7 linked regions of the Homo sapiens genome follow. The protein of the gene in region 1 purifies or fractionates together with the protein of each later gene. This does not show direct contact. Each region holds a gene or a part of one and is shown in the gene's direction. Other genes may lie near its edges.

Region 1 (4,107 bases):
GATAGGGCCCCGGGAATGTCTTGGTTTCTGTGCCTGACCCAAGTGTGTCGATAGCTCCTCTGATGCCCCCTGAGAGTCAGGGGAACTAAGCATGCCCCTCTCTCCACACATACATGCCACCCACTCTTCTCTCCACGCAGCCCCTCTGCTGCCCTTGATTAGTCACAGACGCCAAGGTGGGTGAAGTAGGGAAGAGCCTGACTGTCCACAATGGCCCCCAGTAGCCAGGTACCAGGAAGAGGCGTAAAAGGGAGTCCCGCCTTTACTCCTATAGATGGTGGCTCCTCTGGTTACGATTTCAGAATTCAACATGTTTTACAATCAAAACTAGCATTTGATAAGAAATAAAAATCAATAACCCAGCCAAACACACCATCCACATACTCCCAACGTGAGAGCAGGAAGAATCTTGTGCCTTAACTCCCTTCCTGCCATCAGCTCCCTCCCTCCCTCCCTCCCTCCTCCGTCTCTAGCCCAGCAATCCCTCTACTCCAGTTTTGCCCAGCTATTGGGAATCTTGGACAGCTTCCTTAGGCCCCTGTGCATCCAGGTAGGGTTGGGGCAGCAGAAAGCGAAGACCCACTCAAGACAGACCTTGTCAGTGCGTGCTTGACTCCTGGTCTTTTCTGATGCTTTGTTTGACTCAACATACCTCCTCCAACAACCTGATTTGCATTGATAAGTGTCACTGTGTTTTCCTTTGACACGACTCCGTTGCAGTTTGCCGAGCCCTTGATGGTACCAGGCTCTGGGCACGTAGCACCCACATCCTCACTGGAAACCCAGAGAGCTAAAGCTCCTCATCCAGGGCCACACAACAAGCAGGGCTGGAGCCTGGACACCAAGCCAAGCCCCTCTGTTTCGAATTCTTGCTCTTCAACCACAGCTCAGTCTCCTCCCAGGAAGTGGTGATCCCCGCTTTGGGCGGGACACGGTTAGGTGCATCAGAGGTCATAGGTCGCAGGTGGGATGTGAAGTCTGTGAAGTCGCCCACTTCCTCTGGGCTTGTGGGCAAGGACAGTGCAGCCTTGGGGGACGGGAGTTAGGAGCCCCAGCTTGTAACAGTGACCCGAGCTGTGGCACAGGTCCCCTGGCTCCATCTAATGCTCTGTTGTCACTGTCCTGAAATGATCAACGATCTTTGAACAAGGGGATTTGCATTTCCATTTTGTACAGGGGCCCCTCGAATTCTGTCTCAGGTCCTGTTAAGAGCTCTTTAGGAGTGGTTATTTATTTTTTGTATAAGCAGAGTCTTGCTGTGTTGCCCAGGCTGGTCCCAAACTCCTGGCCTCAAGCAATCCTCCAGCATCAGCATCCCAAAGCACGGGAACAACAGGCGCGACACCGCGCACTGCCCTGGGACAGAGCCTTTGGGGATGACGCCCGTTCCTTGGTTGTTCGGTGGTGGTGGGGAGGATGGCTCCTGAGGGGCAGCTGCCGAACAGTCCTGTGCTTGCCATTCTAGGCGTCTGAGCTGATTCTGGATGCAGTGGCAGCAGCCCCAGCACTCCCCGAGGAAAGTGAGTGGCTGGAGACTACCCAGCTCCAGCAGAGTCTGCACACCAGGGCGGAGGCCGAAGCGCCCCGCGCCCCTGGCTTGCTGGGTGAGTCTGGCTCCTGTGTGGATTAAGGGTTGGAAATGGAGTTTGGGACTTCAACCCAAAGCCACAGACTTTGTTAATGGGTTGAGTTGGGTGCTTCGGTGGTGAACTCCACACTTCCCCCAGAAAGCATGCACACCTCCTGTGAGGACTGAGATCTGGGGCCCCTAGAACCACCATGTACATCGTTCACCCTACGAGAAGGGCCTCAGCCTCCGCACCTGAACGGCAGCCAAGGCAGACAGTCTGAGAGTGTTGGAGCACGGGGTTACCCAGAGGGCCAGCCAGGTAGGAACAAGGGCCAGTGCTGTGGGATCTGCTCCCAAAACATGTGCCTTTTTTTTTTTTTTTCGAGACAGAGTCTTGCTCTGTTGCCCAGGCTGGAGTGCAGTGGTGTGATCTTGGCTCATTGCAACCTCCGCCTCCTGGGTTCAAGCGATTCTCCTGCCTCACCCTCCTGAGTAGCTGGGATTACAGGCGCACACCACCACGCCCAGCTAATTTTTGTATTTTAGTAGAGACGGGGTTTCACCATGTTGGTCAGGCTGGTGTCTAACTCCTCACCTCATGATCCACCTTCCTCGGCCTCCCAAAGTGCTGGGATTACAGGCATGAGCCACTGCACCGGCCACATGTGCCCTTGTATCTTAAAGGACAGAACGGAGGACACAGGGGCCGTATTGAGCAGAGGAAGGGCCTGGACTTGGCTCAGTCACTGGGGTCCTCCGTGCCCCTGGGGAGCACAGGGAGATGCCAAGGCCATCCACTCACTACAGGTGACCCATCTCCCTCGCCCTCCACAGGGTCCCGGGCCCGCTTGCCTCTGAAGCCGAGTATCTGGGACGAGCCTGAGGACCTTCTCGCAGGGCCCTCCTCAGACCTGCGGGCAGAAGGGACTGTGATCTCGAGCCCCAAGGGTCCAAGTGCTCAGAGAATCAGTCCCCGAAGGAGAAACAGGAACACTGACCAGAGCGGCCGCCACCAGCCATCCCTCAAGCACACCAAAGGTGGTACCCAAGAGGCTGTTGCAGGCATCTCGGTAGTGCCGCGTGGGCCCCGAGGTGGGCGGCCCTTCCAGTGTGCCGACTGTGGGATGGTCTTCACCTGGGTCACCCACTTCATCGAGCACCAGAAGACCCATCGCGAGGAAGGGCCCTTTCCGTGCCCCGAGTGTGGCAAGGTCTTCCTGCACAACTCCGTCCTCACTGAGCATGGCAAGATCCACCTGCTGGAGCCACCGAGGAAGAAAGCCCCCCGGAGCAAGGGCCCCCGGGAGTCCGTCCCACCCAGGGATGGAGCCCAGGGCCCAGTGGCCCCTCGCAGCCCCAAAAGACCCTTCCAGTGTAGCGTCTGCGGGAAGGCCTTCCCCTGGATGGTCCACCTCATTGACCACCAGAAGCTCCACACGGCCCACGGCCACATGTGAATGGCCAGCCTCGGGCCTCGGCCACCCGGCCCTGAGTCCCTGGGGGGAGCTGATGGGCCCCAGAAGATGGGGGACATCCCCCAGCCCCACCAACCCCTGGCCACCTTGGGACTCCTCTTGAAGGACACAAGCTGTTTCTCGGAAGACCCTGGACACCTGCTCCGAAGCCAAGCACGGGATGGGGCTTCCCAGGGTCTCAGCTGAGAAGCAGCAGTTCCACAGCACAGCCTGGTCAGTCCTGCGCACTATAGTTTTGCAAGTGGCTTGAAGAGGAGTTTCATTCGCGTCCCATCTTTCAGAAGCCTTGTCCAGGTCTCCCTGTTAGCACCTGACTCAGCGGCAGCTTCTGCCGCTGGGTTTTCATTTCACTGTGGATATCCCTGAGGCCATGAGGGTGGGAGCCGGCCTGGGCAGCTCCAACTCCAGAGAAGGGTACAGCTGACCCCGGCTGCCCTCCTGCCAGCTTAGCCCCCTTGGAACCTAACAGATAAACAGGGTTTTGTTTTTTTCCTTTTTTGGGTAAAGTACATGCAACATAAAATTTACCATTTCAGTCATTAAAAATGAACAGTTCAGTGGCATTAAGCACATTCACAACACTGTGCAACTACCAGCACTCTCTAGCTCCAAAGATGTTTTCGTCTTGCCCAGAAAGAGAGCCCACAGTCCTCAGCACGCCTTCGCCATTCCTGCCCGCCCTGACAACCAGAATCTGCTTCCTGTCTCTGAGGATTTCAGGCGCAGTCTTTAGGCCTGACCAAAACTGACCTGCCTGTATTTTGTTTGACTTACAGAAGGATTTTTTTTTTAGATAGATGCCAACATTTGTTTAAACCATAAAAATCTGGCTTTCTGGTCTGCCAGGAAGGATCAGATGGTCTCCAAAGAGTGGGCCCGCCTCTCCTGCTAGGCTGGAGCAGAGTGTGGGCAGGCGGTGACGTCACAGCGGGGAGCCAGCCTCGGACTCGGCTTCTCACCCGTCCCCAACTCATTGTTGTCGGACACTCGTCCCCTTTCAAGCAAAAGCCTTAAAAGTTTTTGCCTTTTTCTTTTTCTCCTCCCGACTTCACTTGGAAACAC
Region 2 (3,500 bases), 510 kb from region 1:
GAAATGGAGTCTTGCTTTATTTATTTAAAGGACAGGGTTTTGCTGTTTTGCCCAGGCTGGTCTTGAACTCCTGACCTCAAGTGATCCTCCTGCTTCAGCTTTCCAAGTAGCTGCAATTACAGGCTCAAGTCACCACACCTGGCTCAGAGAGGTCTTTTTATGTCTTCATCAGGAGACTATTCTGAATAGCTAATACATTCATATGTTAGGAAATTCAAAAGGCACAAGACAGTATACAGTGGAATGCCCCTTCCCTGCCTGGGCCACACAGTCTTACTCTCCAGCAGCCAACACTGCTTGTTTCTTATGTGTCTTTGTAAAAAGATTCTGTACATACAGAAGCAAAGACATTCCCAGACACATGTTCATTCCCTTTTTTTTTTCTTTTGAGATGGAATTTCGCTCTTGTTGCCCAGGCTGGAGTGCAATGGCGCGATCTCGGCTCACTGCAACCTCCACCTCCCGGTTCAAGCCATTCTCCTGCCTCAGCCTCCCAAGTAGCTGAGATTACAGTCATGCTCCACCACGCCCAGCTAATTTTGTATTTTTTTAGTAGAGACGGGGTTTCCCCATGTTGGTCAGGCTGGTCTGGAACTCCCGACCTCAGGTGATCCGCCCACCTTTGCCTGCCAAAGTGCCGGGATCACAGGCGTGAGCCACCATGCCTGGCCCATTCCTCTTCTTTTTTTTTTTTTGAGACGGAGTCTCACTCTGTCGCCCAGGCTGGAGTGCAGTGGCACAATCTCGACTCACTGCAAGCTCCGCCTCCCGGGTTCACGACATTCTCCTGCCTCAGCCTCCCGAGTAGCTGGGACTACAGGCGCCGGCCACCACGCCTGGCTAAATATTTTGTATTTTTAGTAGAGACGGGGTTTCGCCGTGTTAGCCAGGATGGTCTCGATCTCCTGACCTCGTGATCCACCCGCCTCGGCCTCCCAAAGTGCTGGGATTACAGGCGTGAGCCACCGTGCCCAGCCCCATTCCTCTCCTTTAAAACACACATGGGCCCGGCGCGGCACGTCACGCCTGTAATCCCAGCACTTTGGGAGGCCAAGGCGGGCGGATCACGAGGTCAGGAGATCGAGACCATCCTGGCTAACACGGCGAAACCCCGTCTCTACTAAAAATACAAAATATTAGTCAGGCGTGGTGGCGGGCGCCTGTAGTCCCATCTACTCGGGTGGCTGAGGCAGGAGAATGGCGTGAACCCGGGAGGCGGAGCTTGCAGTGAGCTGAGATGGCGCCACTACACTCCAGCCTGGGCAACAGAGCGAGACTCCGTCTCAAGTGCGCACACACACACACGGGCTGGGCGTGGTGGCTCACACCTGTAATCCCAGCACTTTGGGAAGGCGAGGCGGGTGGATCATATGAGGTCAGGAGATCGAGACCAGCCTGGCCAACATGGTGAAACCATGTCTCTACTAAAAATACAAAAAATTGGCTAGGTGCGGTGGCTCACGCCTGCAATCCCAGCACTTTGGGAGGCTGAAGTGGGCAGATCACCTGAGGTCGGGAGTTCGAGACCAGCCTGACCAACATGGAGAAACCCTGTCTCTACTAAAAATACAAAATTAGCCGGGTGTGGTGGTGCATGCCTGTAATCCCAGCTACTCGGGAGACTGAGGCAGAAGAACCGCTTGAACCCAGGAGATGGAGGTTTGCAGTGAGCAGAGAACACGCCATTGCACTCCAACCTGGGCAACAAGAGCAAAACTACGTCTCAAAAAAAAAAAAAATACAAACAATTAGCCAGGCATGGTGGTGCACGCCTATAATCCCAGCTACTCAGGAAGATGAAGCAGCAGAATCGCTTGAACCCGGGAGGCAGAGGTTGCGGTGAGCCGAGATCACACCACTGCACTCCAGCCTGGGCGACACAGCAAGACTCAGTCTCAAAAAAAAAAAAAAAAAAAAAAAAAAAAAAAAAAAACACACACATGGATGCTTATTCTCCACCCTGTTCCACATCTGGCATTTTTTGTGCATCTTCCAACTTAAGTACACAGCAGCAAGTGCTCTACATCTTTGGGTAGCTACACAGAACCCCACTGTGGCTCACTGTGGACACACCATTGAAAACCTTGTATGTAGGTCACTTAGTACAAGGAGGAACACAACTGTTGAAGAAGTACCTAAAAATTGAATTACTTGAACAAAGTGTGGGACATTTGCTGTTTTGATGGATTTTACCACACTGTCTTCCCATTTATGCTTACCAGCAATACATAGGAACACTTGGGTCCCTGCAGTCAGGGTGTGGAAATGGCAGATGAGTTCAGCCCTAAGGTGCATTTTTCTTACTAGGAGGAGATGGAGTGTATTTTATGGGATATAAGCATTAGCTACATTTCCTGTCCTGTTCACATCCTTTGCCCATGTGTCTATGAGGTTATTGATCTTTCTTACTGATTTATTGTAGCTCTTTACTTAGGAGGTTAATTAGCCTTTTGCCTGTGGAGAGTTTTTTGGTTTGCCATTTGTCCTTTTTTAATTTTTTTTGTTTTTTGGCCATTTGTCTTTTGACTCTGATGTGGTTTTTGCTGATTTCCTTTGATGTATTCTAGTTTATCTGACTTTTCTTTGGCGACTTATGGACTTTCTCTCACCACTAAAAGCCCTCACTGCTCTCTCAGTCTTCTTGATTTAACCTCCTCCAGGCTTCCGCCTTCTCCAGGCCCTGATTCTCAGTTGGAGTTGCTGGTGCCTCCTCCTTCACCCAGCGTCTGACGCTGGAGTGCTCACAGTGTGGCTGGGACCCACTTCTCTCCTCTGTAGATACCCACCCCTGTGTTGATCACTTGCAGGCCCGGGTTCTGTGTGCCATGTGTATGCCCTAGAGCCCTTGCTCACGTTTCCCCACAGCCTTCATGAAGTCTGTGTTCCTCAGATGCCCCACAGACATCACAAGCAAGGCACATCCAAACCCCAGACCACTATCCAGGAGCCTGCACCCTCTTTCTGTTGGCTCCACCTCCAGCCTCCGAGACCCACCCACTTCCCTGCATTTGCTGAGACCATCATTTTCCACCTAGACAATGCCCCCACGCTTGCCCTACAGCCCTTCCAAAAACGATTTTTTCCAACCTAAATCAGACCTAGAAAGCTTTTTCACATAGCCCAGTCTTCCTCCTTGTGCTGGGTTCTGTCTCATTATCACCTCATCAGGGAAGTCTGTACAGATAGAATCCCTACCCCTGCATTTGTCGCCTCCGTCTGCCTCTTTGGTCAGTTTCAGGTCCCTGTAGTTCACACTGTGTCCCCAGGGATGAAGTGGGTCCCGGCACGGTGGGCATTCTGTCATGAATGAATGGTCCCCTTGTGTATGCAGGGTTCGCGCTGCAGCTAGGCAGCATCTCCGCAGGTCCAGGTAGTGTAAGCCCTCACCTCCACGTCCCCTGGGACCTCGGCATGGCTGGCCTTTCTGGCCAGATCCAATCACCCTCCCGCGAAGGTGGCTTTGCGCATGCGCTTCTGCTCCCCAGCGATCTGAGGAGTGA
Region 3 (3,500 bases), on another chromosome or scaffold:
CATAGCATCATTGCAGCCTTGAACTGCAATGGTGGAAGGCTCAAGCAATCCTCCCACCTCAGGCTCCTGAGTAGATGGGACTACAGGTGCATGCCACCATGCCTGGCTAATTTATTTTTAATTTTTTGTAGCGGGGGTGGGGTCTCACTATATTGCCCAGGCTGATCTTGAACTCCTGGCCTCAAGTGATCATGCTGCCTTGGCCTCCCAAAGTGTTGGGATTACAGGCATGAGCCACTGCACCTGGCTATTCGGTGTGTATTTCTGAAGAGTGAGGATATTCTCTTGTATCACAAGAATACAAAAATCAAGTTTAGGGAAATTAAACTTACGATACTATCATATAACCTTAGTCCTTATTCATATTTTGCCATGTTATCCTAATAATGTTCTTTATGATAATTTTCCTGTGATTCAGGATACAAGCCAGCATCACATATTGCACTTAGTTGCCATATCTCTAGTCTGTGAATCTGGAGTAGCTGCTGTCTTTGTCATGACGTTGTTATTTTTGAAGAGTACAGCTAGTTTTTTTGGAGACTATCCCTCAATTTGAGTTTGTCCTATATTTTCTCATGATTCAGGCTGCACATTTTGGCTAGAATACCACAGAGGTAATGTTGTGTTCTCAGTGCGTTACTTCAGGAGGTGCGTAGTGATGATTTGTCCCATTACTGATGAGGTTATGGTGGTACCTGTCAATTTTCTCCACTAGAAAGTTACCATTTTCCCCTTTGTAATTACTAAGTAATCTGTGGGAGACATTTTGAGGTGGTGTACATATCCTGTTCCTCATTAAATTTTCACCAGCTAGTTTAAACATCCACTTGTTTGTTGTTTTTGTTTTTCTGGGCTGGGATCCTTTGCCTGTCTTTTCTGCCTTGTTTGCTGCTGTATCCCCAGCATGTAGAACAGTGCCAGGCTCTTAGCATGCAGTCCATATATGCATGCCCTTTCAAAATAAATCTTTTGTTTCCAGGCCTCTGTCTATATTCAGGGACAGGACATGCACCCAATGGTGGCAGAATATCAAGGAGTCTCTTTGGAGTGTCAGAGCCTCCAGCTCCTGCCTGGGATAACCACCCTGAAGTGTGAACCTCCACAGCGTCCTCAAGGGAACCCCCAAGAAGTGAGTGGTGAGTGCTCGAGTGAGTTTAGTGAGGACGCTGGGAGCTGGCCACTGACACTTGCACAGCCTTCTTGACCTCAAGTTTGTATACATTGTGAAATGATTACCACAAGCTAACTTACATATCTCACAGTTACCTTTTATGTGTCTGTGGTAAGAATTCCTAAGATCTACTCTCATGAAATTTCAAGTATACAATATATTATTATTACTAACTATAGTCAGCATTCTGTACGTAGGTCTTCAGAGCTTATTCATCTTATAACTGCAAGTTTATACCCTGTGACCAACATCAAGTTTTATTTTTTTGTCTAACCCTGTATCTGAACAAACTTGTAAAGACCTGCTTTATTTTACACTGTGCATTTTAAGCTGGTTTATTTAGTATGTATGTGTTGTGGACAAGTACATATAATAGTAAAAGTGAATCGGGGCAAGGCTGTTTTTTTCCAGCAAACTTTATTCCTTCTAGAAATGCAACAACAGCAATAAAAACATTCCATAGTGATCCATTATGGAAGCAAAGAAAAGCAGAGCAAAGAAAAGTGATGTTCTGTTTTATATTTTTGGGTTAGAATTACCACATGTGCTCTTCATTTGATAATTTTGTACTCTGCCATCTGCCAACTGCCAACTTTGTGACCTAGGCAAGTCATTTAATAGGTTATTCAGTTAATCAACAATTATCTGTTTGATCTCTGTGTGTACTCTGCACTCAGCTGTGATTCTTCTGAATGTGCCTAGGATTTTGGAGGCAATAATTTGGACCTTCTTGATTATTTTGAGGATTGGAAATAATCTTTTAAAGTAACAGCACAGTGGCTGGCCTTGTGCAGTCATCATCACCATTTTGATTATTGTTGGTTCTTTGGGATCAGTACCTCCTAACAGTTTTTCTAGTTCATGGCTAACATCTCTTCTCTATTTTTTTAAATATCTTTATTTTCCTGTCTCTCTCTCCATCTTCCTTTCTTCTGCTTTCCTGTTTCCCCTCAGTCTCATCTCTCTACTCTCTACATCCTTTCTTTTGCCTCTGTGTTCTCTCCTTGATCCTTCCTTTATCACCAGCTTCTTCCTCCCCTTTATTTTTGTCTATGATTTTTATTTTTTCTTTATGTGAAAGTGCATGACTGTAAAGCACCTTATGAGTTCATAAATCCCACTCCATTTTTTGGGTGAGAGACCCTAAAGTTGTAGAATTTTAGAATTTCTGACAGAATGAAAGCAGTTGTGATGCTCTTTCTCACACTGTAAAATCTACGTCTTAGTTCTTGAATGTTTAACAAACATAACATTTGGGGGAAAAGGCTGGGTCTCCAAAAAGGGTACCCTAAAGGCCATCATGTCTCATTTAGGACTCTTGCCCTCTCTCTCTGCAGGGCCTGTTCCCCACGGATCAGCTCATCTCCAGGAAAAAAACCCCAGAGACAAGGCTGTAGTGCCTGTGTTTAACCCAGTCAGGTCCCAGGTAAGTAGGATGCCCAAGCTTGTAGGAATATCAGTAGTGGTCTTTCTCCCTCATTCCATGTTCCTTGCCCTTCTCTTGGCTCACACTCATCATCGTGAGAGCCATTCAGGTGGCATAGTCCCTCTGCCTTCACCTTGTCACAGAATATCACAAAGTGTGTTGCATCATTCGAGGAGCTTGTATTGATTATATGCCATTGCCTCATTTCATTGTTCAGGAGGCACGTCCAAATCTCAAGGCATGGGAGTGAGGGGTGGAGTGAGGCTCCTGGTTTCAGAAAGTGCTCCACTCATTTGATGTTGAGTAACTGATATTTTCTCCTTTGAAGTCTCTGGTTTATCTCCCCAGCTTTAGAATAAGGGCCCTTTCTCACACTACTTTATATTCAGCATGTATGCAATTAATGCTTGGTGATAATAATGGAAATTCTATATATCTAAGGTAATACTTAACATCTTCTTCACAAAATGGACTCTGGTTTTTTTTCTTATTAGTGGTTCATTCATTTTCCTAGTCATTTATTTACAAAAAAAAAATAACTCTCTCATTTAAGTCCTCTTGCATACTGCTGCCACATCAGTTTCCTCAAGACACTTGCTCAGTCCTCTTCTATGGCTTCTAATTAATTTTTAATTCTATCAGACCCAGTGCCTCCTGTTATTAACAAATACTTCCTGATAAGAAGTATCTAGAAAATAAAACCTACTCATGCACATTCTGAAAATCAACATAATTCCCTTAAATGTAATTTAATGGTATAATGTAGAAACAAAAAAGTTATTTATTTTAAAAGTAGTGTTTCAAAATGCAAGTGCTTGATGTGATTATAACTAGGGAAATAACAACGTAGTCAGGTGTTTGCACTGAAATATAATTAGTAAGTTCAAATTAAGGAGGAATAAG
Region 4 (3,500 bases), on another chromosome or scaffold:
CAGCCTATGTCATGTTTCAAAAGGATCTCTTCAGTAGAAGAAGATCAATAAAATGACCAGCGTGTTCTTCTTATACCTTTAAGGTTATGTTTTTAAATACTTTAATCTGGCTGGGTGCAGTGGCTCACACCTATAATCCCAGCACTATGGGAGGGTGGGGCGGGCGGATTGCTTGAGGTCAGGAGTTTGAGACCAGCCTGGCCAACGTGGAGAAACCCCGTCTCTACTAAAAATACAAAAAATTAGCCGGATGTGATGGCACACCCCTGTAATCCTAGCTACTCAGGAGGCTGAGACAGGAGAATCGCTTGAACCCAGGCGGCAGAGGTTGCAGTGAGCCAAGATTGCACCACTGCACTCCAGCCTGGGTCCATCTCAAAAAAAAAATAAAAATGCAAGTATGAAAAATGAAGAGTTATCCTAGCAGTTGTAAGATTAGTGGGAAGTATAACATTTATAACAACAAAAAGGATAAACTGAGAAATAAGTTAGAATGGCCGCAGAGGGCCTGGGTTCTAGATGGGGGTGGGGTAGCTGCTCTGTTGAGGGGCGTGCATGTAGGGTCCAGCCCCACAGGGTCAGTGGGTTTTCTCCCTGTGTGCGGAGACGAGAGAGTGTAGAAATAAAGACACAAGACAAAGAGATAAAAGACAGCTGGGCCGGGGGGACCACTACCACCAAGACGTGGAGACAGGTAGTGGCCCCGAATGTCAGGCTGTGCTGTTATTTATTGGATACAAAGCAAAAGGGGCAGGGTAAAGAGTGTGAGTCATCTCCAATGATAAGTAAGGTCACGTGGGTCACGTGCCCACTGGACAGGGGGCCCTCCCCTGCCTGGCAGCTGAGGTAGAGAGAGAGGGAGAGAGAGAGACAGCTTATGCCGTTATTTCTGCATATCAGAGACTTTTAGTACTTTCACTAATTTTGCTACTGTTATCTAAAAGGCAGAGCCACGTGTACAGGATGGAACATGAAAGCAGACTAGGAGTGTGACCACTGAAGCACAGCATCACAGGTTGATGGTTAGGCCTCCGGATAACTGTGCGCGGGCCTGACTGACGTCAGGCCCTCCACAAGAGGTGGAGGAGTAGAGTCTTCTCTAAACTCTGCTAAGTAGTGGGTGTTTTTCCTTGACACTGATGCTACCGCTAGACCATGGTCTGCTTGGCAATGGGCGTCTTCCCAGATGCTGGCGTTACCGCTAGACCCAGGAGCCCTCTGGTGGCCCTGTCTGGGCATAACAGAAGGCTCGCACTTGTCTTCTGGTCACTTCTCACTGTGTCCCCTCAGCTCCTATCTCTGTATGGCCTGGTTTTTCCTAGGTTATGATTGTAGAGTGAGGATTATTATAATATTGGAATAAAAAGTAATTGCTGCAAACTAATGATTAATGATATTCATATATAATCATATCTAAGATCTATATCTGGTATAACTATTCTTATTTTATATACTTTATTATACTGGAACAGTTCGCGTCCTCAGTCTCTTGCCTCGGCACCTGGGTGGCTTGCCGCCCACACGTGCAAGCAGATGTGGGCAGGCGGAGGAAATTATGGATTTAAGGTGGTTATAGTTCAACAGAATGTTCTTCCTTTTTGAAGAAATTTTTTTTTGTTTTGGAGACAGGGTCTCACTCTGTCACCCAGGCTGGAGTGCAGTGGCATGATCTCGGCTTATTACGACCTCCACCTCCTGGGTTCAAGTGATTCTCCTGCCTCATCCTCCCAAGTAGCTGAGATTACAGGTGTGTGCCACCATGCCTGGCTCATTTTTTTGTATTTTTAGTAGAGACGGGGGTTTCAACATGTTGGCCAGCCTGGTCTTGAACTCCTTACCTCAAATGATCTGCCCGCCTCAGCCTCCCAAAGTGCTGGGATTACAGGTGTGAACCACCACGCCCGGCCTTGAAGAAAATTTCTATGTTTATCCAAAAAAATAAAATAAACTGGAGAGTAGCCAGGAAAGTTCTGTTGAGGAAGTCTGTGGGTGGCAAGCCACTCAGGCACCGAGGCAAGAGACAGAGGACACGGGCTGTTCCAGTATAATAAAATATAAAACAAGAATAGTTACACCAGATATAGATCTTAGATATGATTATATATGAATATCATTAATCATTAGTTTGTAGCAATTACTTTTTATTCCAATATTATGATAATCCTCGCTCTATAATCATAGCCTAGGAAAAACCAGGCCATACAGAGATAGGAGCTGAGGGGACATAGTGAGGTGTGACCAGAAGGCAAGAGTGCAAGCCTTCTGTTATGCCCAGACAGGGCCACCAGAGGGCTCCTTGGTCTAGCGGTGAAGCCAGTGTCTGGGAAGACGGGAAGACGCCCGTTACCAGGCGGATCGTGGTCCAGCGGTAGCAAAAGGTGTCAAGGAACAACACCCACTACTTAGCAGACCGGGAACCGGGGGGCGGGGGGGCGGGGGTGGGGGTTGGTGTCTCCCTTTCCCCGGGGGAGTTTAGAGAAGACTCTGCTCCTCCACCTCTTGTGGAGGGCCTGACTGATGTCAGGCCTGCCCGCAGTTATCCGGAGGCCTAACCATCTCCCTGTGATGCTGTGCTTCAGTGGTCACACTCCTAGTCTGCCTTCATGTTCCATCCTGTATACCTGGCTCTGCCTTCTAGACAGCAGTAGTAAATTAGTGAAAGTACTAATAGTCCCTGATATGCAGAAATAATGGCGTAAGCTGTCTTTGTGTCTCCTCTCCCTCTCTGCCTTGGTTGCCAGGCAGGGAAGGGCCCCCGTCCAGTGGACACGTGACCCACGTGACCTTACCTATCATTGGAGGTGACTCACATTCTTTACCCTGCCCCTTCTGCCTTGTATCCAATAAATAACAGCGCAGCCCGACATTCAGGGCCACTACCGGTCTCCGCGCATTGGTGGTAGTGGTCCCCCAGGCCCAGCTGCCTTTTCTCTTGTCTCTTTGTCTTGTGTCTTTATTTCTACACTCTCGTCGCCGCACACAGGGGGAGACCCACTGACCCTGTGGGGCTGGTCCCTACAGAAGTCTGATGAGGAGGTACTTGCTGGGATGTGTTTTAAACGTGTTGAGGTCACAGTCACTGAAGAGTGTGCTTTAGACCAGAGGTGGTCATGCTGGTCACTAGAGTGGGGCCTTGCGGCAGTGAGACCACCACGGATCGGAGGCCTGGCCGCACCCTGTGTGGTGAGGGGCTGGGGAGGTGGTGCTCTCTGGTTGTCAGCGGAGGGAGTAGTGATCGGTGCCACCTTTCTGAATGGCAGTTTTAAGTATGCTGCTTGTGGATTTTAAATGTAATTTTTGTACTTTTGTTTTCTTCTCAGTCCAGTCAACCTGCAACCAAAACGAGACTTTTTAGCACGCTTGATCCTGAGCTCATGTTAAACCCAGAAAACTTACCAAGGGCCAGTACCCTGGCTATGACAAAAGAATATTCCTTCCTGCGCACCAGTGTCCCTCGGGGGCCTAAGGTGGGCAGCCTGGGGCTTCCGGCACATCCTAGG
Region 5 (3,500 bases), on another chromosome or scaffold:
TGGGGGCTTTCCAGTGGGGCACCTTCCTCAAGGAGGCGAGTCTAAAAGAGTTCTTTGAAGAAGAAAAGGTGTTTGGCAGAAAAAAGAAGGGGATCAAGTCTGGTCCTGCTCAAGCCGTATTTGGGCAAGGCTGGATGCCAGCATCATTTCCCTTTTCCTGTTCTCCAAGGATGTACTTTGGAGGGGATGAGGAATGACATCAGTGCTTTTTAATTTGGTTGGATCCTCCCTTGTACCATAATAGTTCTTCGTGGTGCAGTGAGTGAGAAATTGAGGATGCATTTATTTTATCACAGCCTTGTTCTTAAGACAGGGCTTGGCCGAATGTGAACTTTGTTCTTGATGAGAAGGTAAATAGCGGCTGCCAGGCTCTGTCAAGCATGAGGTGTGAGTGGGAGGCTGCTGCAGAGTGGAAATGAGGTGACTTAGTTGTTAGGGGCAAGCTGAGCCCCAGCCACAGAGGCTCACAACTGCAGTGGCTCAAACAAGTGGATTACTCCCATTCAACTGTTGGGAGGAAGCTGGTTGGGAGGAAGTTGGATTACAGACATGAGCCACTGTCTCTGGCCTAGGATTCTTTCTTTATTCATAGCAATCTCCTATTGTTGCAGGGGTTGGGGCCATTTAAAGATATGGCCCTGGCCTTCCCTGAGGAGGAGTGGAGGCATGTGACCCCAGCCCAGATAGACTGCTTTGGGGAGTATGTGGAACCGCAGGACTGCAGGGTCTCTCCAGGTAAGACTGTCTCCACCCACAGGTGAGGAACTGGGGAGTTCTGAAAGCTCAGGTCAGGGGTCCTGCCGTAGCTCTGGCGCTCCTGGCAAAGGAAGGGGACTTCATGGCAGGCGGGTAAATGGGTCCAGCACGGACCATGGGGCACGAGGAGCTGCTTTCCTGTGTCAATAGAGGAGCCAAATGATGGAGCAGGAAAACATGAGGCCATTATTCTGGCTGTATGGAGACAGGTCGGTCATGAGGACCCCCAAACACCTACATTGTGTCCATGATTAAAGACACTGAGGGCTTGAGAACAAGATACGAACAGCAAAAGATGGGGCATCTGAGCTTGTTCAGATATTTATTGAGTGCTCCCTGCATGTGGGCCCTGTGTTAGTGGTTTTCTCTTGCGGCAGGAAGTGGGCAGGACTAACGTGCACGAAAGCGTTGGAGCTCACGGTGTGCACGTAGGAGGGCACGAGGGGGCTTCGCGATGGGAGAGGTTGGAGTGGCCCGAGTCACAGAGGAAGCAGAGCTGCGCTGGGACTCAGGTGGTGGCTGGGTTTGACCTGGGCTCAGAGCCTGGGGGGATGCGGCCATTGTGTGTGACAGCAGCTCATGGGAGGAGGAGCAGCGAGAGAGAGCCCACAGGGGCTGCCAGCAGAGCGCACTGCGGGGCTTTGGGGCTGCCAGGGCAAGGGACAGTATGGAGAGTCTGCATGCGTGGAATCAGGATGCCGGCGGGGAGAGGAAACACTGTGGCTGGAGCGGCCTGTCCTTGTTCTTTGATTTTCTTCTTTTTTGTTTCATAACTTCTTTGTGAGTTGTACACTGACCACCCATCTGTACCGACCCCACCTAGCCTTTCCTTATCCTGAAATGCCTTGAAGGAAGAGCAAGATTATCCCTGTGCTTCCTTCAGGACGTAAGAGAATCCATCCTGCCCCTCCACTTGCTGACCCTGACCTTGAGCATCTCCCTTGAGCTTTCCAGGTCTCAGTTTCCTCTGTTGTGGAATGGGGCTGTTCATGGAACCTGTCCTCATGGTGCCATGAGGATGAAGGGAGGTGACATATCTAAATGTGTGGTGACCATGGTAGTGTTAGATTGTTTAGTTAGTGCTGTAAGTATTACTAAGGGATTCTTGTAGGAGCCCTCAGCCTTCACTCATTTATTCACCACAGAGGTGGACTTGGCTCTGTGGCCATTGCTGTTCTGGTCACTATGAAGAGTTAAAAATAAAGGCGCTTGCCTGTGGGGTCTTAGAGTTCAGGGGAAGAGGCCATGTGCATGTAATAGTGGGATACGGTAAGGGGCACTGGTCTCCTGGGAGACCTGGGTCCAGGGCACGGTTGACACAGTGTGGCAGTGATGCAAGTGGCAGAAAGATGTCAGCATACTTTATGTGGAGATGTGTGATTGCTGTAACGGCAGAGGATGACAGAACAAAGCAGGGGCTCGAGTGATGAGCCCCAGACAAAGGTGCCAGTGTCCTGGTGCCAGGGTCCCCCTCAGGGATATTCCCCTCCCAGTGATGCTGCTGTGTGGGGTGAGGAGCCCCTCGCCCCCATTCTCAGAAGATTTTCATGCTCTCCTGGCCATTTCTGACTGTTCTGGAGACTGGTTCTGTCCTTGTCCCCTCACCAGCTCAGTGTCTCAGAACTCAGAGCAACTCAAGCCCATACCTGAACATTTCTGCCGCCAGGTGACACGAAGGCCTGTTTCCCAAGTGTACCATTCACTTGCTGTCCCAGCTTTCAGGTCTTCCTGGGATTCACACTCGGGTTGTCCTGGTGCTTGTACTGACAGCTGCTTGGGGCTGGGCCTGAGCTGCTTCACCTGTAAAGAGACTGAATGCACAGGGCAGGGTTGAGCTAGGTGGCTGCCCAGATCACTTCCAGTTGTTCGTCTGTTCTCATTAGCAGACGGTGAGGTGCAGACCTTGTTGTCTGGGTTGTAATTGCAGTAATGTCCACAAGGACTGGAGCAAGAACTCACAACAGGATTTGGAATCACAGAGGCAAAAAGTAGCAGGTGCAGAAACCTGAATGCAGGACTCTGCAGGCTGGTTCCCAGGATGGTGAGGGTCCTGGAGTGAAAGATGAGTGCTCAGAGGAGTAAGGAGGAGGCAGGAGTGAGTAGAGTGAGGCCGCTGAGGAGTCCGTGAGGACTCTGGGTCCTTGTTTAAAAATTTTTTCTGCGCAGAGTAATGTGATGGAGGTTTTACTTGAGGAAAATTGGATTGACGGCAGGGTACGGCCAGTCTGGAGGGTTGAAATAGTGTAGGCACTGGGGTAAGAGCAGGAACCAGGCCAGTGGTCATGTAGAAGGGGGTTTACTGAAATATGCTTCCAAGGATGGGCCACAGATTGGCCAGAGGGGAGGAAAGAGAAGAGTCAGAGAGGAGTCTACGTCTTAGGATCCTGGCTAAGGGCCTGGAAAAATTATGTTACTACTGTCAGAAAGAGAGGGAAGCATTTTCCTAAGAGGGAGGAAGAATGGAAAGTTCCATTTGTTGACTTTGAGATCTAAGTGGATGGTCCCTGGAAGTAGCTGCAAGTCAGGTACATGGTCTGGGAGTTAAAATAATATCATGAACCATTGCATTCCTGCTCCATGTGTGCAGTAAACTTCATGAGTGTACAATCCATTTTGAAGGTGGTGAATGTAAGGCTCAGAGAGGTTAATTGATTTTCCCATGATCACACAGCAATTGAGCAGCCAGTGCAGCACTCAAAACGGGTTTCTCACTGCTAGGTCCCTTCTCTTCCACTACTGTGTCT
Region 6 (2,638 bases), on another chromosome or scaffold:
GGTCGCCTCCTTCCCCTTGCAGGTTTTGGGCTCAAAGGCCAAAGTGAGAAGTCCCTGCTGCAGGAGATGGTGCCGGTGGTGCCAGGCCAGACAGGCAGCGACGTGACTGTGTCCTGGAGCCCCGAGGAGGCTGAGGCCTGGGAGAGCGAGAACCGGCCGAGGGCGGCCCTGGGCCCAGTGGTGGGCGCGCGACGGGGGCGGCCACCCACTCGCCGGCGCCAGTTCCGGGACCTGGCAGCCGAGAAGCCGCACAGCTGCGGGCAGTGTGGAAAGCGCTTCCGCTGGGGCTCGGACCTGGCGCGGCACCAGCGCACGCACACGGGCGAGAAGCCACACAAGTGCCCTGAGTGCGACAAGAGCTTCCGCAGCTCCTCGGACCTGGTGCGCCACCAAGGCGTGCACACGGGCGAGAAGCCCTTCTCCTGTTCCGAGTGCGGCAAGAGCTTCAGCCGCAGCGCCTACCTGGCCGACCACCAGCGCATACACACGGGCGAGAAGCCTTTCGGCTGCAGCGACTGCGGCAAGAGCTTCTCGCTGCGCTCCTACCTGCTGGACCATCGGCGTGTGCACACCGGTGAGCGGCCCTTCGGCTGCGGAGAGTGCGACAAGAGCTTCAAGCAGCGCGCGCACCTCATCGCGCATCAGAGCCTGCACGCCAAGATGGCCCAGCCCGTGGGGTGAGCAGCTGGCTTGGCCGGAAACCCGGGGGAGGCCCAGCCACGGCACATCCTGCTTTGTTCACCACTGGGACTCTCCTTCCATCTGTGGCCACCTCCCGGGCTGTCCGAGGGACCCCAGGGTACCTCACACTCGGAGCTCGCCTGCCCTGCTTGGCTCTGAGGACCTGCCCAGCGCTCAAAGGGAACGGAAGCCTTCCCCTCCCGCCCCCGATCTTGTCCTCTTTCCCCCTTCTGCGCCTAGCGTTCCTCTTCCCCTCTAGTTTCCTGGAGCCCCAACACATTCCTGGCAGGGACAGCAGGGTGGCAAGGACTCAGGTCTAGGTCCCTTCCCAGAAGCCCCCGAGCCTCATTTGACTGTGTGGCTCTTTGGCCCCCACCCTGTGGGGTGGGTCCATGGGTCAGGCCTCTGCCCTACCAACCTGTGCCTTTCAGTGGGCGTGGAGGACTGGCCTTGGCCCCCCAGGGGGCTGCTGGACTTTGGGAGAGACAGCCCACACCTGTGGGACCGCGGGTCTTAGTCACGGCGGCAGGGGCTTTCTGGCCCCCTCCCACTCCCGTTTCCAGGCCATGACCACTCTGCCCTGTCCTGGCCATACGGACTCGGCCTGCCTTTGCCCTCGGCCTACTTGCCCTAGCATGAGGCTCTGAGAGCCACCTGCCCACCAATCTGGTGAGGATAATGGTGGCTCCAGCGACAGGAGGCCAACCCTGGAGACCAAGAACAGGGCGCCTGGCTGCCATCTTTTCCTCCAGAGGTGGGGCTGCACCAGACTCAGCACTAGCACTCCATCAGCACTAGCACCTCACTCCATCAGCACTAGCACCTCACTCCATCGGCCCCGGCACCCTGCTCCATCGGCACTGGCGCCCTGCTCCATCGGCACTAATGCTCCACTCGGCGCCCCACTCCATCGGCCCCGCTCCATCGGCACTAATGCCCCACTCGGCGCCCCACTCCATCAGCACTAATGCTCCACTCCATTGGCACTAACGCCCCAACTCCAGCGGCACTAATGACCCGCTCCTTTGACATTGGTGCCCCACTCCATCAGCACTAACGCCCTGCTCCATCGGCACTGGTGTCCCACTCCATTGTCACTAACGTCCGGCTCCATCGGCACTACCACCCCGCTCCATCATCACTATGTCCAGCTCCGTCGGCACTACCACCCTGCTCCATCATCACTACGTCCAGCTCCAACGGCACTGGTGCCCCATTCCATCGGCACTAACGCCCCGCTCCACCGGCACCAGTGCCTCGCTCCATTGGCACCAACGCCCAGCTCCACCGGTACTGGCTCCCTGCTCCATCGGCACTAACGCCCTGCTTCATTGGCACTTTGCTGCTGCCTCCTGAGCACTGCCTTCCATGAACAGGGACAGACCAGAGGCCCTGCAAGGACTCCCCCTCAGACCTCCAAAGGGCAACAGAAGAGTATTAATAAACGTGAAAACTTACCTCCAGGCTGTTCTGTTCTTTCGGTAGCTGGAGGGTGGGGATACCTGGAATATATGCCCCTTGCCCTGGCCTTGTGTCCTGGTGGCACATGCTGCTGCACCGTGACCAGGCGGAGCTGCGTCCTTGGCGTCCAGGTCGGCTGGGCCCCAATGGGCAGCCGTGTCCCCTGGGACTCTTGTCCCCCTGTGTCAGCTAGTGCCTGCCCTGCTCTGGGAGCACCGTCGGTGCTCCAGCAGAACGGGGAGCTGAGCAGGACTCAGGGTCTTCACCAGGCCACTCCTCTCCCACAACTGTGAAAGGAAGAAGGGCCCATAGACGCTGCTTGGTCAGTGGTGGGACCCTCTTGCTGCGTGTTGGGGATCTGGAACTCAAGGCTGCCCCAGGCTGAGTCCCTTGGAGGAGGGGCTGACAGCGGGCTTGCCCTTCCCACCAGCCCCTGACATCCAACTTCTCCCTACCAGGAGCCCCAGGCCGGGACCCACCAAGGGCTGGTGGGTGC
Region 7 (3,500 bases), on another chromosome or scaffold:
TCTCCTTGAAGAGGTCCTTCACGTCCCTTGTAAAGTGGATTCCTAGGTATTTTATTCTCTTTGAAGCAATTGTGAATGGGAGTTCACTCATGATTTGGTTCTCTGTTTGTCTGTTATTGGTGTATAAGAATGCTTGTGATTTTTGTACATTGATTTTGTATCCTGAGACTTTGCTGAAGTTGCTTATCAGCTTAAGGAGATTTTGGGCTGAGACGATGGGGTTTTCTAGATATACAATCATGTCATCTGCAAACAGGGACAATTTGACTTCCTCTTTTCCTAATTGAATACCCTTTATTTCCTTCTCCTGCCTGATTGCCCTGGCCAGAACTTCCAACACTATGTTGAATAGGAGTGGTGAGAGAGGGCATCCCTGTCTTGTGCCAATTTTCAAAGGCAATGCTTCCAGTTTTTGTCCATTCAGTATGATATTGGCTGTGGGTTTGTCATAAATAGCTCTTATTATTTTGAGATACGTCCCATCAATACCTAATTTATTGAGAGTTTTTAGCATGAAGGGTTGTTGAATTTTGTCCAAGGCCTTTTCTGCATCTATTGAGATAATCATGTGGTTTTTGTCTTTGGTTCTGTTTATATGCTGGATTACATTTATTGATTTGCGTATATTGAACCAGCCTTGCATACCAGGGATGAAGCCCACTTGATCATGGTGGATAAGCTTTTTCATGTGCTGCTGGATTTGCTTTGCCAGTATTTTATTGAGGATTTTTGCATCAATGTTCATCAAGGATATTGGTCTAAAATTCTCTTTTTTTGTTGTGTCTCTGCCAGGCTTTGGTATCAGGATGATGCTGGCCTCATAAAATGAGTTAGGGAGGATTCCCTCTTTTTCTATTGATTGGAATAGTTTCAGAAGGAATGGTACCAGTTCCTCCTTGTACCTCTGGTAGAATTCGGCTGTGAATCCATCTGGTCCTGGACTCTTTTTGGTTGGTAAGCTATTGATTGTTGCCATAATTTCAGAGCCTGTTATTGGTCTGTTCAGAGATTCAGCTTCTTCCTTGTTTAGTCTTGGGAGGGTGTATGTGTCGAGGAATTTATCCATTTCTTCTAGATTTTCTAGTTTATTTGCATAGAGGTGTTTGTAGTATTCTCTGATGGTAGTTTGTATTTCTGTGGGATCGGTGGTGATATCTCCTTTATCATTTTTTATTGAGTCTATCAGAGTCTTCTCTGTTTTCTTCTGTATTAGTCTTGCTAGTGATCTATCAATTTTGTTGATCCTTTCAAAAAACCAGCTCCTGGATTCATTAATTTTTTGAAGGGTTTTTTGTGTCTCTATTTCCTTCAGTTCTGCTCTGATTTTAGTTATTTCTTGCCTTCTGCTAGCTTTTGAATGCATTTGCTCTTGCTTTTCTAGTTCTTTTAATTGTGATGTTAGGGTGTCAATTTTGGATCTTTCCTGCTTTCTCTTGTGGGCATTTAGTGCTATAAATTTCCCTCTACACACTGCTTTGAATGTGTCCCAGAGATTCTGGTATGTTGTGTCTTTGTTCTCACTGGTTTCAAAGAACATCTTTATTTCTGCCTTCATTTCGTTATGCACCCAGTAGTCATTCAGGAGCAGGTTGTTTAGTTTCCATGTAGTTGAGTGGTTTTGAGTGAGTTTCTTAACCCTGAGTTCTAGTTTGATTGCACTGTGGTCTGAGGGACAGTTTGTTATAATTTCTATTCTTTTACATTTGCTGAGGAGAGCTTTACTTCCAAGTATGTGGTCAGTTTTGGAATAGGTGTGGTGTGGTGCTGAAAAAAATGTACATTCTGTTGATTTGGGCTGGAGAGTTCTGTAGATGTCTATTAGGTCTGCTTGGTGCAGAGCTGAGTTCAATTCCTGGGTATCCTTGTTAATTTTCTGTCTTGTTGATCTATCTAATGTTGACAGTAGGGTGTTGAAGTCTCCCATTATTATTGTGTGGGAGTCTAAGTCTCTTTGTAGGTCACTCAGGACTTGCTTTATGAATCTGGGTGCTCCTGTATTGGGTGCATATATATTTAGGATAGTTAGCTCTTCTTGTTGAATTGATCCTTTTACCATTATGTAATGGCCTTCTTTGTCTCTTTTGATCTTTGTTGGTTTAAAGTCTGTTTTATCAGAGACTAGGATTGCAACCCCTACCTTTTTTTGTTTTCCATTTGCTCGGTAGATCTTCCTCCATCCTTTTATTTTGAGCCTATGTGTGTCTCTGCACATGAGATGGGTTTCCTGAATACAGCACACTGATGGGTCTTGACTCTTTATCCAATTTGCCAGTCCGTGTCTTTTAATTGGAGCATTTAGTCCATTTACATGTAAAGTTAATATTGTTATGTGTGAGTTTGATCCTATCATTATGATGTTAGCTGGTTATTTTGCTGGTTAGTTGATGCAGTTTCTTCGTAGCCTCGATGGTCTTTACAATTTGGCATGATTTTGCAGTGGCTGGTACCGGTTGTTCCTTTCCATGTTTAGTGCTTCCTTCAGGAGCTCTTTTAGGGCAGGCCTGGTGGTGACAAAATCTCTCAGCATTTGCTTGTCTGTGAAGTATTTTATTTCTCCTTCACGTATGAAGCTTAGTTTGGCTGGATATGAAATTCTGGTTTGAAAATTCTTTTGTTTAAGAATGTTGAATATTGGCCCCCACTCTCTTCTGGCTTGTAGAGTTTCTGCCAAGAGATCCGCTGTTAGTCTGATGGGCTTCCCTTTGTGGGTAACCCGACCTTTCTCTCTGGCTGCCCTTAACATTTTTTCCTTCATTTCAACTTTGGTGAATCTGACAATTGTATGTCTTGGAGTTGCTCTTCTCAAGGAGTATGTTTGTGGCATTCTCTGTATTTCCTGAATCTGAATGTTGGCCTGCCTTGCTAGATTGGGAAAGTTCTCCTGGAAAATGTCTTGCAGAGTGTTTTCTAACTTGGTTCCATTTTCCCCGTCACTTTCAGATACACCAATCAGACGTAGATTTGGTCTCTTCACATAGTCCCATATTTCTTGGAGGCTTTGTTTGTTTCTTTTTATTCTTTTTTCTCTAAACCTCCTTTCTTGCTTCATTTCATTCATTTCATCTTCCATCACTGATACCCTTTCTTCCAGTTGATCGCATCAGCTCCTGAGGCTTCTGCATTCTTCACATAGTTCTCGAGCCTTGGTTTTCAGCTCCATCAGCTACTCTAAGCACTTCTCTGTATTGGTTATTCTAGTTATACATTTGTCTAAAATTTTTTCAAAGTTTTCACCTTCTTTGCCTTTGGTTTGAATTTCCTCCTGTAGCTTGAAGTAGTTTGATCATCTGAAGCCTTCTTCTCTCAACTCGTCAAAGTCATTCTCCGTCCGGCTTTGTTCCGTTGCTTGTGAGGAACTGCGTTCCTTTGGAGGAGGAGAGGCACTCTGCTCTTTAGAGTTTCCAGTTTTTCTGCTCTGTTTTTTCCCCATCTTGGTGGTTTTATCTACTTTTAGTCTTTGATGATGGTGATGTACAGATGGGTTTTTGGTGTGGATGTCC

Evidence for each region.
Region 2: the proteins of ZSCAN1 (region 1) and MZF1 purify together in Homo sapiens (affinity purification with mass spectrometry; 3 studies listed by BioGRID and IntAct, with this or other methods). This does not show direct contact.
Region 3: the proteins of ZSCAN1 (region 1) and PGBD1 purify together in Homo sapiens (affinity purification with mass spectrometry; 3 studies listed by BioGRID and IntAct, with this or other methods). This does not show direct contact.
Region 4: the proteins of ZSCAN1 (region 1) and GOLGA3 purify together in Homo sapiens (affinity purification with mass spectrometry; 2 studies listed by BioGRID and IntAct, with this or other methods). This does not show direct contact.
Region 5: the proteins of ZSCAN1 (region 1) and ZSCAN25 purify together in Homo sapiens (affinity purification with mass spectrometry; 3 studies listed by BioGRID and IntAct, with this or other methods). This does not show direct contact.
Region 6: the proteins of ZSCAN1 (region 1) and ZNF213 purify together in Homo sapiens (affinity purification with mass spectrometry; 3 studies listed by BioGRID and IntAct, with this or other methods). This does not show direct contact.
Region 7: the proteins of ZSCAN1 (region 1) and ZNF215 purify together in Homo sapiens (affinity purification with mass spectrometry; one large-scale study listed by BioGRID and IntAct). This does not show direct contact.

What each region holds. Positions count from the first base shown.
Region 1 is NC_000019.10:58,051,025-58,055,131, forward strand, and holds the end of ZSCAN1 (zinc finger and SCAN domain-containing protein 1), read left to right. Parts: intron 1-1,465; coding exon 1,466-1,604; intron 1,605-2,404; coding exon 2,405-3,027; 3' UTR 3,028-3,607; downstream 3,608-4,107. UniProt on the Homo sapiens protein: May be involved in transcriptional regulation.
Region 2 is NC_000019.10:58,563,336-58,566,835, reverse strand, and holds part of MZF1 (myeloid zinc finger 1), read left to right. Parts: intron 1-3,331; coding exon 3,332-3,500. UniProt on the Homo sapiens protein: Binds to target promoter DNA and functions as a transcription regulator. Regulates transcription from the PADI1 and CDH2 promoter. May be one regulator of transcriptional events during hemopoietic development.
Region 3 is NC_000006.12:28,284,572-28,288,071, forward strand, and holds part of PGBD1 (piggyBac transposable element-derived protein 1), read left to right. Parts: intron 1-979; coding exon 980-1,136; intron 1,137-2,508; coding exon 2,509-2,597; intron 2,598-3,500.
Region 4 is NC_000012.12:132,808,370-132,811,869, reverse strand, and holds part of GOLGA3 (golgin subfamily A member 3), read left to right. Parts: exon of another isoform or gene 1-83; intron 84-3,320; coding exon 3,321-3,500. UniProt on the Homo sapiens protein: Golgi auto-antigen; probably involved in maintaining Golgi structure.
Region 5 is NC_000007.14:99,623,446-99,626,945, forward strand, and holds part of ZSCAN25 (zinc finger and SCAN domain-containing protein 25), read left to right. Parts: intron 1-611; coding exon 612-735; intron 736-3,500. UniProt on the Homo sapiens protein: May be involved in transcriptional regulation.
Region 6 is NC_000016.10:3,140,667-3,143,304, forward strand, and holds the end of ZNF213 (zinc finger protein 213), read left to right. Parts: coding exon of another isoform or gene 1-22; coding exon 23-681; 3' UTR 682-2,138; downstream 2,139-2,638. UniProt on the Homo sapiens protein: May be involved in transcriptional regulation.
Region 7 is NC_000011.10:6,950,426-6,953,925, forward strand, and holds part of ZNF215 (zinc finger protein 215), read left to right. Parts: intron 1-3,500. UniProt on the Homo sapiens protein: May be involved in transcriptional regulation.